2 separate regions of the Homo sapiens genome follow, and region 2 is linked to region 1. Evidence: fine-mapped expression QTL. Tissue or cell type: whole blood. Region 1 holds a variant in brackets; the other region holds the start of a gene. All regions are shown on one strand. Distances are from middle to middle.

What was found. PIP is the estimated chance that this variant, and not a neighbour inherited with it, causes the effect.
Region 2: it holds the start of SNU13, and the variant in region 1 is fine-mapped to the expression of SNU13 in whole blood (TOPMed, PIP above 0.99).

What each region holds. Positions count from the first base shown.
Region 1 is chr22:41,663,443-41,671,544 of GRCh38, reverse strand. It overlaps XRCC6 (X-ray repair cross complementing 6), which reads right to left. Exons shown (of 13, transcript NM_001469.5): 13 at 7,504-7,923. The coding sequence ends at 7,730. Among named protein-coding and RNA genes, the nearest start is that of SNU13, 21 kb to the left of the region's middle. The variant C/G (reference allele first, on the strand shown) is at 4,446.
Region 2 is chr22:41,684,049-41,692,150 of GRCh38, reverse strand. SNU13 (small nuclear ribonucleoprotein 13) reads left to right here and starts at 3,284. Exons shown (of 3, transcript NM_001003796.2): 1 at 3,284-3,357. The coding sequence starts at 3,355. It also overlaps the pseudogene C22orf46P. RefSeq lists enhancers at 3,185-3,364, 3,915-4,084 and a silencer at 3,604-3,803.

The DNA.
Region 1 (8,102 bases):
GCTCTGTAACATTCTACTTTTTTTTTTTAACTTAAACATAACTAATGTCTGAGATTGCTTTCTTTTTTTTTTTTTTTTTTTTTTTTTTTTGAGACATAGTCTCTGTTGCCCAGGCTGGAGTGCAGTGGCATGATCTCAGCTCACTGCAACCTCCACCTCCCCGGTTCGAGCAATTTCTCTGCCTCAGCCTCCCAAGTAGGTAGGATTACAGAAGTGTGCCACCACGCCCAGCTAATTTTTGTATTTTTTAGTAGAGATGGGGTTTCACCACGTTGGCCAGACTGGTCTCAAACTTCTGACCTCAAGTGATCCGCCTGCTTTTGCCTCCCACAGTGCTGGGATTACAGGCGTGAGCCACTGGGCCCAGCCTGAGATTGCCTTCTGATTTTTGTTTCTAAACATTTTATTTTTGAGAGAGAATCCGTTGCTTTCATCAGGTCTCAAAGGTTCCCCTGACCCCAAACACAACTGGTTAGGAATTTCAGATTTTCAGTGTTTCCTGAAACTCTTTCCCAAGAGAACCTGCAATTAAATAGTTTTACATTTACAGTATTGACCTAAAGAGATTATTTATTTGTTGTATTTGAACGTTTTCATTATCTTTGATCTCAAACTGATGGATGGAAAGGCAGCTTGTTCTTGGAAATGAGTGTCCCCCATTCCCCTGGCATCAGGTTACTTTTTTTTTTTTTTTTTTTTTTTGAGACAGTCTTACTCTGTCACCCAGGCTGGAGTGCATTGGTGCAGACTCGGCTCACTGCAACCTCTGCCTCCCGGGTTCAAGAGATTCTCCTGCCTCAGCCTCCCGAGTAGCTAGGATTACAGGTGCATACCACCATGCCCGGCTAATTTTTGCATTTTTAGTACAGATGAGATTTCACCATGTTGTCAAGGCTGGTCTCAAACTCCTGGCCTCAGGTGATCTGCCCGCCTTGGTCCCCCAGAGTGCTGGGATTACAGGCATGAGCCACCATGTCTAGCCCAGGTTACATTTGGAAAAATCAAGTATGGCCTCTGGCTTGAGCTGATGTATCTACTTGGGGGTAGGGTCATGGGGATGGAAGATAACTATACTCTTGTGAAGGAAGGAAATAATTTAAAGTAGCAAGTCAATATTCACAATGACCTGTGGCAGCCAGCCTCCAAGATGGCTCCAGTGCTCCTCACCTGCGATTCACGCCCTCGTATAGTCTACCACACCAACTCAGAGTCTGGCAGAATCGATGTGACATTGCAGTTTCTGCCTTCATTTCTTCAGATAACTGGCTATAAGGGAAGTCAGCTGCCATGGACTTAAGGACATGGAGGTCCTAAGGCCTCTAGCCAACAGCTGGCATCACCTTTGCCAGCCATGGGAATGAGCCTCTGTTTCATTTGTACCTGTGGAATTTTTTTTTTTTTTTTTTTTGAGACGGAGTCTCGCTCTGTCACCCAGGCTGGAGTGCAGTGGCGCAATCTTGGCTCACTGCAAGCCCCGCCTCCCAGGTTCACGCCATTCTCCTGCCTCAGCCTCCCAAGTAGCTGGGACTACAGGCACCTGCCACCACGCCCGGCTAATTTTTTGTATTTTTTTTGTAGAGACGGGGTTTCACCATGTTAGCCAGAATGGTCTCGAACTCCTGACCTCGTGATCCGCCCGCCTCAGCCTCCCAAAGTGCTGAGATTACAGGCGTGAGCCATCGCGCCCGGCCTCCTGTGGGATTTTAATTAACAGATTGAGTGATGACACTAAGTCAATGCCATTGAAAGAATGTACGTTTCCTACGAGAAGGGGCATTCCACACAGCACAGGGCCATGGGAGAAACATCGCGCTTTGTTTACGAGTCAGAATTAGAGCAAGGGGAATCATAGGCCACATCCTTTATCAGAGTTTCCTCAGGAAAGGCAGGACAGAATAAACGGTTTAGGATTGATTGGCTAGTTTGAATCGTTCCAGTGGGCTTTGGGCTATGGGGTGGTCTCTAGTTGCCTGGCATCTGGTCCTGGGATGAGTTAGTACAGGAGGAATAATGCTTTGGTATGTGAAAGATAAAGGAGGTGACTGGCATGCATGAGAGGCATTCTCACAAATATGTGGTAACTGTCTCTATGAGTAAGCTAGCCCTGAGAGGAGCAGTTTATTCCTGGGTCTGGAAGGCCCCCCAAGATGTCAAAACATAAGACAGAGATAATTGGAAACATGCTCATTACGGCCTCCCAGCAAATAGATCCTCCAGCCTCACTCTAGCTTTCAGGTAGGAGAGGAATGCTTATTGTTTTAAGCCAATAGTTCCTGGGTGTAATTTGTTACACAGCAATAGATAACTAAGGTGGGAGGAGGGTGCGGGGTAGTGATGAAGGGATGGGGACGCCTTGTCAAACCACAGCAATAAAAATGGTCATGTTGGCTGGGCGCGGTGGCTCACACCTATAATCTGAGCACTTTGGGAGACCGAGGCAGGTGGATCACTTGAGGTTGGAGTTCGAGACCACCCTGACCAACATGGTGAAACCCTGTCTCTACTAAAAAAATACAAAATTAGCTAGGCATGGTGGCACACACCTGTAATTGCAGCTACTCGGGAGGCTGAGGCAGGAGAATTGCTTGAACCCAGGAGGCGGAGGTTGCAGTGAGCTGAGATCACGCCATTATTGCACTCCAGCCTGCGCAACAAGAGTGAAACTCCGTCTCAAAAACAAAAAAAAAAAAAAAAAAAGGTCATGTTTCCACCAGACGCGGTGGCTAATGCCTGTAATCCCACCCAGCACTTTGGGAAGCCAAGGCAGGTGGATCACCTGAGGTTAGGAGTTTGAGACCAGCCTGGCCAACATGGTGAAACCCCATCTCTACTAAATACAAAATTACTACTACTACTACTAAATACAAAATCTCTACTAAAATACAAAAATTAGCCGGGCGTGGTGGCTCACGCCTGTAATCCCAGTACTTTGGGAGGCCAAGGCGGGTGGATCACGAGGTCAGGAGTTCGAGACCAGCCTGGCCAACAAAGGGAAACTCCGTCTTTACTAAAAATACAAAAATTAGGCATGGTGGGGGGCACCTGTAATCCCAGCTACTTGGGAGGCTGAGGCGGGAGAATCACTTGAACCCAGGAGGCAGAGGTTGCAGTGAGTCGAGATCATGCCACTGCACTCCAGCCTGGGCAAGAGAGCAAGACTCAGTCTCAAAAAACAAAAACAAAAATTAGCTGGGCGTGGTGATGCCTGTAACCCAGCTACTCGGGAGGCTGAGGCAGGAGAATTGCTTGAACCCGGGAGACAGAGTTTGCAGTGAGCCAAGATTGTGCCACTGCACTCCAGCCTGGGCGACAGAGCGAGACTGAGTCTCAAAAAAAATAAAAATAAATAAAAATAAAAGGACCAGGTGCGGTGGCTCACGCCTTTGATCCCAGCACTTTGGGAGGCCAAGGCAGGCAGATCATGAGGTCCAGAGTTGGAGATCAGCCTGGCCAACATGGTGAAACCCCTTCTCTACTAGGAATACAAAAATTGGCTGGGCATGGTGGCACATGCCTGTAATCCCAGCTACGTAGGAGACTGAGGCAGGAGAATCACTTGAACCCGGGAGGTGGAGGTTGCAGTGAGCTGAGATGGTGCCACTGCACTCCAGCCTGGGCGACAGAGCAAGACTCCATCTCAGAAAAAAAAAAAAAAAGAAAGAAATGGTCATGTTTGTCTTCTGGATCTTTGTAGTCATAAATAAATAAATAAACAAACAAACAAATAAATAAATAAATGGTCATGCTAAAATTGCAGGGTAGCGAGGAACACTAGAAGTGCTGGCATGGCCCACGAGCCGCCTGAGTCCTCAGAAGATAGAAGTCCACGTAGGATTTGCTTCCATACATGATGCAGAGAAGGTTGCATCAGGGTCCTTACAGTCAGGGGCAGTGTGGCTTAAACAAGAAAGGCTGAATACATAGCTCCCGTTCCAGTAAAACCTGGGTGTGTTTCCTCTCCTAATACGGATGCTAATGAGGATGGAATTTCTGGATAGTCGGCAGGGAGAGGAAGTGGATGACTAATCTCCCTCAGAGCTCGTGGTCCTGCCCTGCCTTTCTTCTGTTTTTTTTGTTTACTTTTTTGTTTTGTTTTGTTTTGAGGTTGGAGTGCATTGGCGCGATCTCTGCTCACTGCAACTTCCGCCGCCCGGGTTCAAGCGATTTTCCTGCCTCACCCTCCCGAGTAGCTGGTATGATAGGCGCCTGCCACCACGCCCGGCTAATTTTTGTATTTTTGGTAGAGACGGGGTTTCACCGTGTTAGCCAGGATGGTCTCGAACTCCTGACCTCAGGTGATCACCCCCACCTCAGCTTCCCAAACTGCTAAGATTACAGGCGTGAGCCACCGCGCCCGGCCTCTTCTGGTTTTCAACAAGACATTAAAACAAGACATTACAGAAGGGGAAAGGCTGAGAGGTAAAAGGCTCATCTTCCCAAGTAAC[C/G]GCAGTTTTCGTTGAGTGTCATTCCAGACGTTCCCTCTGCACCTGGCCTAGAAGTAAACAGACATATGTGCATCCGTGTGTTTGTTTCAGTTTTGGCCAAACGGATTCGTGTTCTCGAGCTGCTGCGGCGGCCACAAGGAACCCGGATGCCGCTGAGCTTAGCCCGCCAGACTCTCCGGCTTATGGCTCCCAGGCCCAGGCACCCGGCCTGCCTCGTCCGTGGCGCGCATGCGCAGGCCCAGATCGGCGCTCCGCGCCGGCTGTGTCGCCACCTGGCGGATGGAAGCGCGATGGCCGCGGTAGAAGTCAAGCGCCAGAGGGCACTCCATGCGGATACCCAAATCTGAGGTTGCCCAAGTCCCTGATGTAACATGGCGCAGTATTTGCATATGAACTACGCACGGCCTCCCGGATACTTTAAATTATACTCTAGATAATTTACGATACCTAATAAAATGTAAATGCTATGTCAATAATTGTCATACTGTATTATTTATGGAATAATGACAATTTTGTTGTTGTTGAGACAGAGTCTCGCTCTGTCGCCCAGGCTGAAGTGCAGTGGCGTGATCTCGGCTCACTGCAACCTCCTTCTTCCGGGTTCAAGTGATTCTCCTGCCTCAGCCTCTCGAGTAGCTGGGATTACAGGTTCCCACCACCACACCCGGCTAATTTTTTTATTTTTAGTAGTAGAGATGGGGTTTCACCACGTTGGCCAGGCTGCTCTCGAACTCCTGACCTCAGGTGATCCGCCCTCCTCGGCCTCCCAAAGTGCTGGAATTACAGGCGTGAGCCACCGCGCCCGGCGGGCTAATGACAAAATTTAAAGTCTGGCCCGGCGCGGTGGCTCACACCTGTAATCCCAGCATTGTGGGAGGCCTGGCCGGGTGGATCACCTAAGGTCAGGAGTTTGAGAGCAGCCTGGCCAACATGGTGAAACCTCGTCTCTACTAAAAGTAAAAAATTAGCCAGGTGCGGTGTTGTGCGCCTGTAATCCCAGCTACTCGGGAGGCTGAGGCAGGAGAATCGCATGAACCCAGGAGGCAGATGTTGCAGGGAGCCAAGATCGCGCCACTGCACTCCAGCCTGGGCGACAAGAGCAAGAGTACAGACGCAGCCATCGATTTTTTCCCCAAGTTTTATTTATTTATTTATTTATTTATTTTGAGGCAGAGTCTCGCTCTGTTGCCCAGGCTGGAGTGCAGTGGCGCGATCTCGGCTCACTACAACCTCTGCTTCCCAGATTCAAGCGAGTCTCCTGCCTCAGCCTTCCGAGTAGCTGGGATTACAGGTGCACGCCATCATGCCCGGCTAATTTTTTGTATTTTTAGTAGAGATGGGGTTTCACCATGCTGGCCAGGCTGGTCTCGAACTCCTGACCTCGTTATCCGCCTGCCTGGGCCTCCTAGTGTTAGGATTTCAGGCGTGAGCCAGCACGCCTGGCCCCCAAATATTTTTGATCCATGTAGGTTGAATCCATCGATGTGGAGCCTGCGGATGCAGAGGGCCAACTGTATCTATTGAGTGCCATGTTCTTTTACGTATTTTCTCATTTTCACCATGTGACGTTATTATAAGAATGTGGAAGCTAAGGCTCAAAATGCCTCATAAACTGCCCAAGGTCACTTGTATATATGATGGCACTAAGATGTAAATTTGCTAAATCAGCCTCGTGAGCTTCCAAAGGCCTAACCAATTCCACTGGAACATGGTATTTCTTCTCTCCTGGGTGGGGGACTCAGCAGGCAGAGAAGGCATCATTGATTTACAGAGAAATATCACTCTGTTGCTGTTTATCACAGACCTCGGGTGATTTGTCTAACATTCACATACCTGCCTGGCTCTGGTAGGTGTTTGACCTCTGAACTCTCATTCTCTCCATTTTGGAAGTAGGAGGCAAAGGAGCGTAGGCTTGGGCATAGTGTGCACAGCAAAGCCAGCCTGGAGCTCACCCCAGGGCTGCTCTTCACTAGCTCCAGCATCCAGGGTCGGATACCAAGGGCTCAGTGGGGCTACTCCTTGCCCTCCTATTGCAGGTGACTGGCTGTGACTAGTGTAATTTCAATCTACCTTGGTAGATTAACCCCCTATAGAATCCAGTTTCCAAACTTGCTCCATTTAAGGGGAATGGTCCAATTTCTCAACAATTTCTAAGCATCTAATGGGAGAATTATCTTCCCCTCTTGCCCAGACACGTAAGGAAATACAAAAAAATACAGTATCTCCTTTCAAACAGAAACAAAAGCAATAACAGGTTAAAAAAAAAACCTATAAAGCTTAGAGCCAAGAATCCAAAGCTGAAAGGAGTAATTTGGCCCCTCCTACACTCTTCCTCATGAGGTGCTGCTCATTCTAGTCCTGAAGGACACAGGACCTGCAAACCCTTACTCACATCCTCAGAGGAGACCAACAATTCCAGATGCTCTCCTTCCTTCCCTCAGGCTAATTCTTCAAAAGCAGTGGCAGTAGAATGAGCAGGAAAGGGACAGGGAGGACAGAGCAGGGATGTAGAAGAAGAAAAGGTAAAAGACACTCCTGTCCTCTTCCCCTTCTTTAAATACTAGGACATTTTCTCATCTTGAATTTCCTACAGCTCCCCTGAAACACAAGAGGAGTAACTCTTCATTTCACTTATTCTGGAACCCAAATTCTCAGGGCAACAGAAAATGGGTATATTTTTGCATGACTTAATGTTGCATTAAGAGGAATGCAATGAGAAGGAGTTGCTGTTTACTCACGAAGCAAATGGCCCCAGAACTAAGTGTTACCTTCTTACTGCTTCAGAAATCTGATTTTTATACCTTAACATGACACATTTAAAGGAAAACAGGCTAGAGGACAGAGGATAAGGATAATATAATCCTGCTAGGGCTTCTTACTCCCAAAATGCCTTCGCCTGCCCTGACCCGTCACACTCTCACCCGCCCCTCTGATACTTGTTTTGTTTCCATTGTGGTGATGAGTGTTCCCAATGAAAGAGAAAATTAAGCTAAGTGATGGCTAGCAAGTTTTGGATGCAAGGCATACACACCTTTCTCCTTCACACAAAAGAACAGTATATAGTACAAACTTAGGGCTCTTTATTCAGGCAGTAAAGTAAGGAACAGCAAAGTGGGAGGGCTACACCATCACCATGGCAACAGAAAGCCTCAAAAACATAAAGTCCCTCGACTTATGTCGGGTAGACTCTTCCTAGCTCAGGAGAAACACATTTTAACTGGCTGAGGACAAGGCCAGGCAGCCTGGCCACACTGCGGAAGGGCAGCTGGACGCGCGGCCTCTGGTCAGTCCTGGAAGTGCTTGGTGAGGGCTTCCAGCAGCTCCTGCTTCTTCAGCCCACTCTTCAGCCCGTAAGCCCGGCAGGCCTCTTTCAGCATGGGCACAGTGAACTTGCCCAGCGTACCCTTGCTGATGTGGGTCTTCAGCTCCTCTTCTGAATACTCCACCTTGGGCCTTTTGCTTCCAGAACCTTCATTATCTGGGGGGAAAGGTCAGGAGAGAGTGACTGGAAATGCTACATACAAGTGGCATCCCAGCTACATGGCATGGGGGACCTCGTATAATCTGGGCTGCAATTAACCATAAAGCTGTGATGCCAGCCTAGGACACCATGGGGAAGACTTATCTCGATAAGGTAGCTTCATTTAAAGTGCAAAA
Region 2 (8,102 bases), 21 kb before region 1:
CTGGACTTTAGCCTGGGCCACACAGCAAGACTCCATCTCAAAAAAAAAAAAAAAAGAAAAGAAAAAAAAGAAAAACAAGAAAGAAATCTGCAGAGTTGGCTAGGAGTGGTGGCTCATTCCTGTAATCCCAGCACTTTGGGAGGCCAAGGCAGGCGGATCACATAAGGACGGGAGTTCGAGACCAGCATGACTAACACGGAGAAACCTCGCCTCTACTAAAAATACAAAATTAACGGGTGTGGTAGTGCATGCCCATAATCCCAGCTACTCAGGAGGCTGAGGCAGGAGAATTGCTTGAACTTGGGAGGCAGAGGTTGAGGTAAGCCGAGATCACACCATTGCACTCCAGCCTGGGCAACAAGAGCAAAACTGCATCTCAAAAAAAAAAAAAGGAAAAGAAAAGGAAATCCGCAGAGTTGTGACTAAAACTTCTGGGCTGCTGGTAATCATTTGTTTCTTAATCTGCATGCTACAAACTGATGTATTCAATTATGAAAATTTACTGATCTACACACTTGTAATTGTGTGTGTGTATTATCCTTGGACCAATTTTTTTTTTTAAAAGAGAGAAAAAAGAGGCCAGGCACAGTGGCTCACACCTGTAATCCCAGCACTTTGGGAGGCCGAGGCAGGCAGATCACAAGGTCAGGAGCTCGAGACCAGCCTGGCCAACAAAGTGAAACCCCATCTCTACTAAAAGTACAAAAAAAAAAAAAAATTTGCCAGGCGTGGTGGCGGGCGCCTGTAATCCTAGCTACTCGGGAGGCTGAGGCAGGAGAATCGCTTGAACCAGGGAGGCGGAGGTTGCAGCAAACCAAGATCACACCACTGCACACCAGCCCAGGCAACAGTGTGAGACTCTGTCTCAGAAAAAAAAAGAGAGAGAGAGAGAGAGAGAGAGAGAGAAAGAAGAAGGCCATTCTGGTGACTGTATGGAGGATAGGCTGTGGTTGGATAAGAGAAGCAGCAAGAACCAGGCAGAAGGCTGTTGCTATGGTCCAGTTGAGACATGATGGTGTCTCTGCCCAGGAGGGTGTGGTGTGGTTAGAAGTGATCAGATTTGAGATACAATTTGCAAGTATAGCCCCTGGGACCTGCAGATGGATTGAATGTGTGGAGTGAGGGAAAGAGAGGAGCTCAGGGTGACTCCTGGGTTTGGGGCTTGGCCGATGCTCTCCCTGAGCAGCCTGAGTTTCCCTCTGATTCATTTCTGGTACACCAGGCATAAAACAAGGTCCTTGTAACAAGTGACAGAGACAATCATGGTGCTGAGGGAAGAAGGGTGAAGGTGTATGGGGCCCACTCACCTTGATGACATTCCTTGTGCTGAAGCGGGTCCTGGTGACCTGGTGCCAACAGTGCCGGACCTGCCAGACCAGAAAGAGGCAGAGGACAAGCAGGTTGCCACAGCACTGAGGGTCCCTGCAGCTGTGATTCTGGGAGAGCAGGCCCTGCACTGGCTCCCACTCAGGGCCATGGAATGGCCCCACCACAGCACAGGCACCCAGCAGTGACAACAACATGGCAAAGCTTAGATCAGGCAGATGGTGTTGGGAGCTAGAGGGCAGGCCTGGCACATCTGATGCAGCCAGCTGCAGTAGGATAGCCGCCACCTCATAGCACCCCTGTCACTGAGGCCACCTCACAAAGGGGGCTGATGCCCCAGCCTCAACTCTGACCCTGGTGCCAGGCCTGGTTAGCATGCTCTTGGTGCAGGTAAGGACAGTATTGGGGAATTGTTCAAAAGTAATTAGGAGGAAGAACTTGTTTTAAACAAACCCATCCTCTGGAATGAAAAGATTAAGTTCCCTGAATGTGTGATGGGGTGATATAACCTGCGGTCTGCTTGATTTCTTTCTTCCTATGAAATACTTGGATCTGCCTGTCCTTCTATTATCAAACATTTAATGAACACTGTATTGAATACATGTATTCTTGTTTAACCACTCAACATGCCTTTCTCGTTGCTTGCAGTATCCTGATTTCCTGTGGGGGAATTACTTTTCCCATCTTAGGATCAGTGTTGGTGGGAAAATAAATGTTACCCTGAAGACTCTTTTACCCAAAAGTTCTATTCAAAATATTAAATATCTGAGCAGGCAGGGACGTCAGCCAATTATAATGAGCCAGGCCTTAACTGTTTAGTGGCTGGAATTTTTTTTTTTTTTTTTGAGACCGAGTTTCCACTCTTGTTGCCCAGGCTGGAGTGCAATGGCGCGATCTCGGCTCACTGCAACTTCCACCTCCCAAGTTCAAGCGATTCTCCTGCCTCAACCTCCCGAGTAGCTGGGATTACAGGCATGCGCCACCACGCCCGGCTAATTTTGTATTTTTAGTAGAGACGGGGGTTTCTCCATATTGGTCAGGCTGGTATCGAACTCCCAACCTCAGGTGATCCGCCCGCCTCAGCTTCCCAAAGTGCTGGGATTACAGGCGTGAGCCACCGCACCCGGCCCTCTTTTTTTTCTTCTTTTTTTTGAGACGGAGTCTCACTCTGTTGCCCAGGCTGGAGTGCAGTGTGCAGTGGTGCGATCTCGGCTCACTGCAAGCTCCGCCTCCGGGGTTCACGGCATTCTCCTGCCTCGGCCTCCCGAGTAGCTGGGACTACAGGCGCCCGCCACCATGCCCGGCTAATTTTTTGTATTTTTAGTAGAGACGGTTCACTGTGTTAGCCAGGATGGTCTCGATCTCCTGACCTAGTGATCCGCCTGCCTCAGCCTCCCAAAGTGCTGCGATTACAGGCGGGAGCCACCGCACCCGGCCGGCCTTTTTTTTTTTTTTTTTGAGAGTCTCGCTCTGTCGCCTCAGCTGGAGTGCTAGAGTGCAGTGGCATGATCTCAACTTACTGTAGCCTCCACCTCCGGGGTTCAAGCGATTCTCCTGCTTCAGCCTCCTAAGTAGCTGGGGTTACAGGCGCCCGCCACCACGCCTGGCTAATTTTTGTATTTTTTAGTAGGGACGAGGTTTCGCCATGTTGGCCAGGCTGGTCTCGAACTCCTGTCCTCAGGTGATGCGCCCGCCTCGGCCTCCCAAAGTGCCGGGATTACAGCCATAAGCCGCTGCGGCCGGCCGGTGGGTTACTTTTTGAATGTTTAATTCATTGTTTCTGCCAATAATTTGTACTAGGCAGCTCATAAGAACGCCAAAGTACGTTCCTTCTTCGACACAGGGCCAGTTTCCGCGCCAGTGCCCCCGTAGAGGGCGGGGCCCACTCGCTCGCGTAGCGTCACCTTCGCTTCCTGCCGCGCGGGGCCATTTCCGCTGCTGCTTCTGTGAGTTTTTCCGGTGCACGCGAGTGCTTCTGAAACGTCAGCTGCGCTCCCCTAGGAGTGCTGAGCCCGCGGAACCGCAGCCATGGTGAGTGCGTGCGCCGGCCGAGGGACCGGGAAGCGGGAGACTCAGGGTTGCGTTCACTCCCTAGCCTGTTAGATGGAGGCTTAGAGCCTGCGCCGTCTCATCCGCCGGCGTTGGGTCTTAACCGCCGGGCCCTTAGTTAGAACCCCAGCAGCGGCGGGGTCCCAGCAGCCTGGCCCGAGGTTAGAACTCAGGAAACCTTAGGATCCCCGCAGCTGTGTTGCTTTGCCGCACGGTCTGTTTGCTTGGCAAAAGGCCTGCAGCGAGCGGAGGGGGCATGGCCCAGCCTGGGAGAAAGAGACCAACCCACGTGGGAGAGGGCAAAAAGTTGGGTGAAGAAAACTTGGCTCCAACTTTTTTTTTTCCTTGTTTCTTTTCATACGAAATCTACGATGGCGTGGGACCCTGGGATTCGGATCAACCTCTCCTACCCACCCTACCTCACCCCACCCCCGTTGCTGGGGTTCAGGAGGAGATCTCCCATGGGTCTGCGCTTAGTGCCCGCCGCGAGTCACACGCGCCAGGGACCTAGAGGAGCCTTTGGCATTTGGGGGCTGTGGGGAACATGAAGTGAGCGCGACTCACGGCCTGGAGTGCAGGAAAGGCTTCTCCTGCAAGGCGGTGGCTTCAAAAACCAGAAGTCTGGTAGCACCACGTGCGGCGTCTCTAAACTCTTGGTCGTCTCTGACTTTTAAACATCTAGGGAAAGTTCTAAAACGTGTGTCCTGGCGTAGTAGTTTTGGTTGGCACTTGGTGAGGAGGGAAGAATTTGTAAAGCACTGTAACTTCTATAGTTAATCCTTCCAGTGGAGCTTGGATCCCGGCGGTAGCACTCCCCACAAACCTCCTCCCATGCATTTTGAAGCTTAGTACGTGGCTGAGCCTAGAACTTGAAGCTTCCAAACTCAGTGCTCGCTTTAACGCAGCTCCCTGAAACGTTTTGGAATCGGATGGTCTCAGGTTGAACTTTGCAGTTTTCCTCAACTGTAAAATGGGGATGACAGTGCATGAGGGTGTTGTGAGGATCAAATGAAATAAAGCATGGTAAACATCTAGTCCTGATGCTTGGTACAGAGTAAGCACGCAGTATTTGTTGTTCAATCAAAACCTTGCAAGTTTTGGCTGTCTGGTGTACAGCGAAACCAAACTGATCATGCTAGGTAGGGATTTAGGTTGGCTGGTGGTATGATATCATTCGTTAATTTATTTAACCCCTGAAGAAATTGAAAGGCAAATAAATACACCCTAAGCAAGTTTCAATTAGTGTTTATAAGCTAGTTTGGTTTTAAAATTGAGTTTAACTTTTTTGTTGACTAATAGTGAAACATTTAGGTATTTAATGATTGTTCAGATTCCTGAAGTCTTCCTCTTTTATGAATTTGATGTTTATTGAGATTTGAGAATCCTGATTTCCAGAGAATGGGTTGTTGGAAACAATGGCAATTTTTAAAGTTTTTTTAAATTGACATATCATAGTTGTACATACTTTGGGGGTTCCATGTAATATTTCTAAGTATATCTATTTTAAAACATGCAACAGGGCCAGGCGCGGTGGCTCATGCTTGTAATCCCAGCACTTTGGGAGGCTGAGGCGGGTGGATCATGGGGTCCGGAGTTTGAGACCAGCCTGGCCAACATAGTGAAACCCTGTTTCTACTAAAAATTCAAAAAAATTAGCCAGGCGTGGTGGTGGGCACCTGTAATCCCAGCTACTTGGGAGGCTGAGGCAAGGAGAATCGCTTGAACCTGGGAGGCGGGGGTTGCAGTGAGCCAAGATCACACCACTGCACTCCAGCCCGTGTGACAGTTTGAGACTCCGTCTCAAAAAAATAAATAAATAAAACTTGTGATAAATTATTAACCAAAATTTCCAGCTGGGCACGGTGGCTCACGCCTGTAATCCCAGCACTTTGGGAGGCTGAGGCGGGTGGATCATGAGGTCAGGAGTTCAAGACCAGCCTGACCAACATGGTGAAACCCCATCTCTACTAAAAATACAAAAATTAGCCAGGCGTGGTGGTGCGTGCCTGTAATCCCAGCTACTTAGGAGGCTGAGGCAGGAGAATCACTATAACCGGGGAGGCGGTGTTTGCAGTGAGCCGAGATCATGCCACTGCACTACAGCCTGGGTGACAAAGCAAGACTGTGTCAAAGAAAAAAAAAATCCCTACTGTAGTATCAAATAAAACATTTGTATGGCCGGACGTGGTAGCTCACACCTGTAATCCCAGCACTTTGGGAGGCCGAGGCGGGTGGATCACCTTAGGTCAGGAGTTCAACCTGGCCAACATGGTGAAACCCCCATCTCTACTAAAAATACAAAAATTAGCTGGGCGTGGTGGTGCATGCCTGTAGTCCCAGTTACTCGGGAGGCTGAGGCAGGAGAATTCCTTGAATATGGAAGGCAGAGGTTTCGGTGAGCCGAGATTGCGCCACTGCACTCCAGCCTGGGCGACAGAGGGAGATGCCGTCTCTTAAAAAAAAAAAAAAAAGATAAAAGAATAAACTCCAAATCAGTAGAGGGGAAAATAGTGCAAATGCAATGATAAATCCAGAGAAAGGAAAGAAAGAAAAAGAAACAGAACAAGTGGAACAAATAGAAGGCACAAAAGAAGGAAAATTTGAAACCATTATACCAATACTTAAATATGTAAAGGGACTGAGTGCTCCAGTTAAAAGACGGGATGTGGCCAAGCACTGTGGCTCAAGCCTGCAATCCCAGAAATTGGGAGGCTGAGGCGAGAGAATCTCTTTAGCCCAGGAATTGGAGACCACCCAGGGCAAAATAGTGAGATCCTGTCTCTACAAATTTTTTTTTTTTTTTTTTTGAGACAGAGTCTCGCTCTGTCACCCAGGCTGGGTGTGCAGTGGCACGATCTTGACTCACTGAAACCTCTGTCTCCTTGGTTCAAGCGATTCTCCTGTTTCAGCCTCCCGAGTAGCTGGGATTACAAGCATGTGCCACCATGCCCGGCTATTTTTTGTATTTTTTTAGTAGAGACGGGGTTTTGCCGTGTTGGTCAGGCTGGTCTCCAACTCCTGACCTCAAGTGATCTGCCTGCCTCAGCCTCCCAAAGAGGTGGGATTACAGGCGTGAGCCACCACACCCAGCCTAAACAATTTTTTTTTTAATTAGCCAGGAGTTGGCCGGGTGCAGTGGCTCATGCCTGTAAACCCAGCGCTTTGGGAGGCTGAGGTGGGCGGATCACAAGGTCAGGAGTTCAAGACCAGCCTGGCCAACATGGTGAAACCCCGTCTTTACTAATAATACAAAAATTAGCCGGGCATGGTGGCGCATGCCTGTAATCCCAGCTACTCAGGACGCTGAGGCAGGAGAATTGCTTGAACCTCGGAGGCAGAAGTTGCGGTGAGCCGAGATTGTGCCACTGCACTCCAGCCTGGGCAACAAGAGCAAAACTCCGTCTCAAAAAATAAAAAATAAAATAAAATAAAATTAGCCAGGAGTGGTGGCCCACACTTGTAGTTCCAGTTACTGAGGAGGCTGAGGCAGGAGGATCGCTTGAGCCCTGGAGGTCGAGGCTGCAGTGAGCTATTGTCATGCCACTGCACTCTGGTCTCAGTGATAGAGTGAGACCCTGTCTCAACAACAAAAAGGGTGTAATTCTTTTTTTTTTTTTTTTTGAGATGGAGTTTCACTCTTTCGCCCAGGCTGGAGTGAAGTGGCATCATCTCAACCTACTGCAATCTCCGCTTCCCGGGTTCAAGCCATTCTCCTGCCTCAACCTCCAAGTAGCTGGGATTACAGGTGCCTGCCACCACACCCAGATAATTTTTGTATTCTTAGTAGAGACGGGGGTTTCACCATGTCATCCAGGCTGGTCTTGAACTCCTGACCTCAAGAGAGCCACCCACCTTGGCCTCCCAAAGTGCTGGGATTATAGGTGTGAGCCACTGTGCCTGGACTGCCCCAGCTAAGTTTTTAAATATTTTTAGAGATGGGGGTCTCACTGTGTGGCCCAGGCTGGTCTCAAACTTCAGGCCTCAATCAGTCCCCAGCCTCAGTTTCCCAAGTTGGTGGGATTATAGGCCTGAGCCACTGCAGCCAGTTCAGAATACACTCTTCAAACATGGAACGTTTTTGAAAATTGGCCATAAAGCAAGCCCTGCAAATTTTAACATTGGTAATATTACATACCATTTTTGCCTAACCCAAAAGGAAATAAGTTAAAAATTAGTAACAAAGTAGTTTGAAATGAAAAATATAAACTATCAGAGAGATTTAAAAATTGTAGTAGGAATTCAAAAATAGAACAGAACAATAATGAAAATACCACATACCAGAGCATAAGTGACAAGGGCAGAGGGGGGAAGAAACAAATGAAAGGATATAATGAAAGTATTACTTGGAGCCTAAGATGCTAATGCTAGGGAGAAACGGGATAAAAAGGTAGAAAAAAACACTAGCACAAAATAACCCCAAAGAAAGTAGAAGGAAAGAAAAAAAACAAAAGGAGAAATTGCTGAAATAGAAAGTAGAGCATACTGCTGGGTCTTTTCCTTTCCGAAGCCCCTCTTTCTCACCAGAGAGAGCTGTTCTTTCTCTTTCTTTTGCCTATTAAACCTCTGCTCCCGGCCAGGCGCAGTGGCTCACACCTGTAATCCCAGCACTTTGGGAGGTCGAGGCAGGTAGATCACCTGAGGTCAGGAGTTCGAGACCAGCCTGGCCAACATGGCAAAACCCAGTCTCTACTAAAAAATACAAAAATTAGCCCGGTGTGGTGACGCGC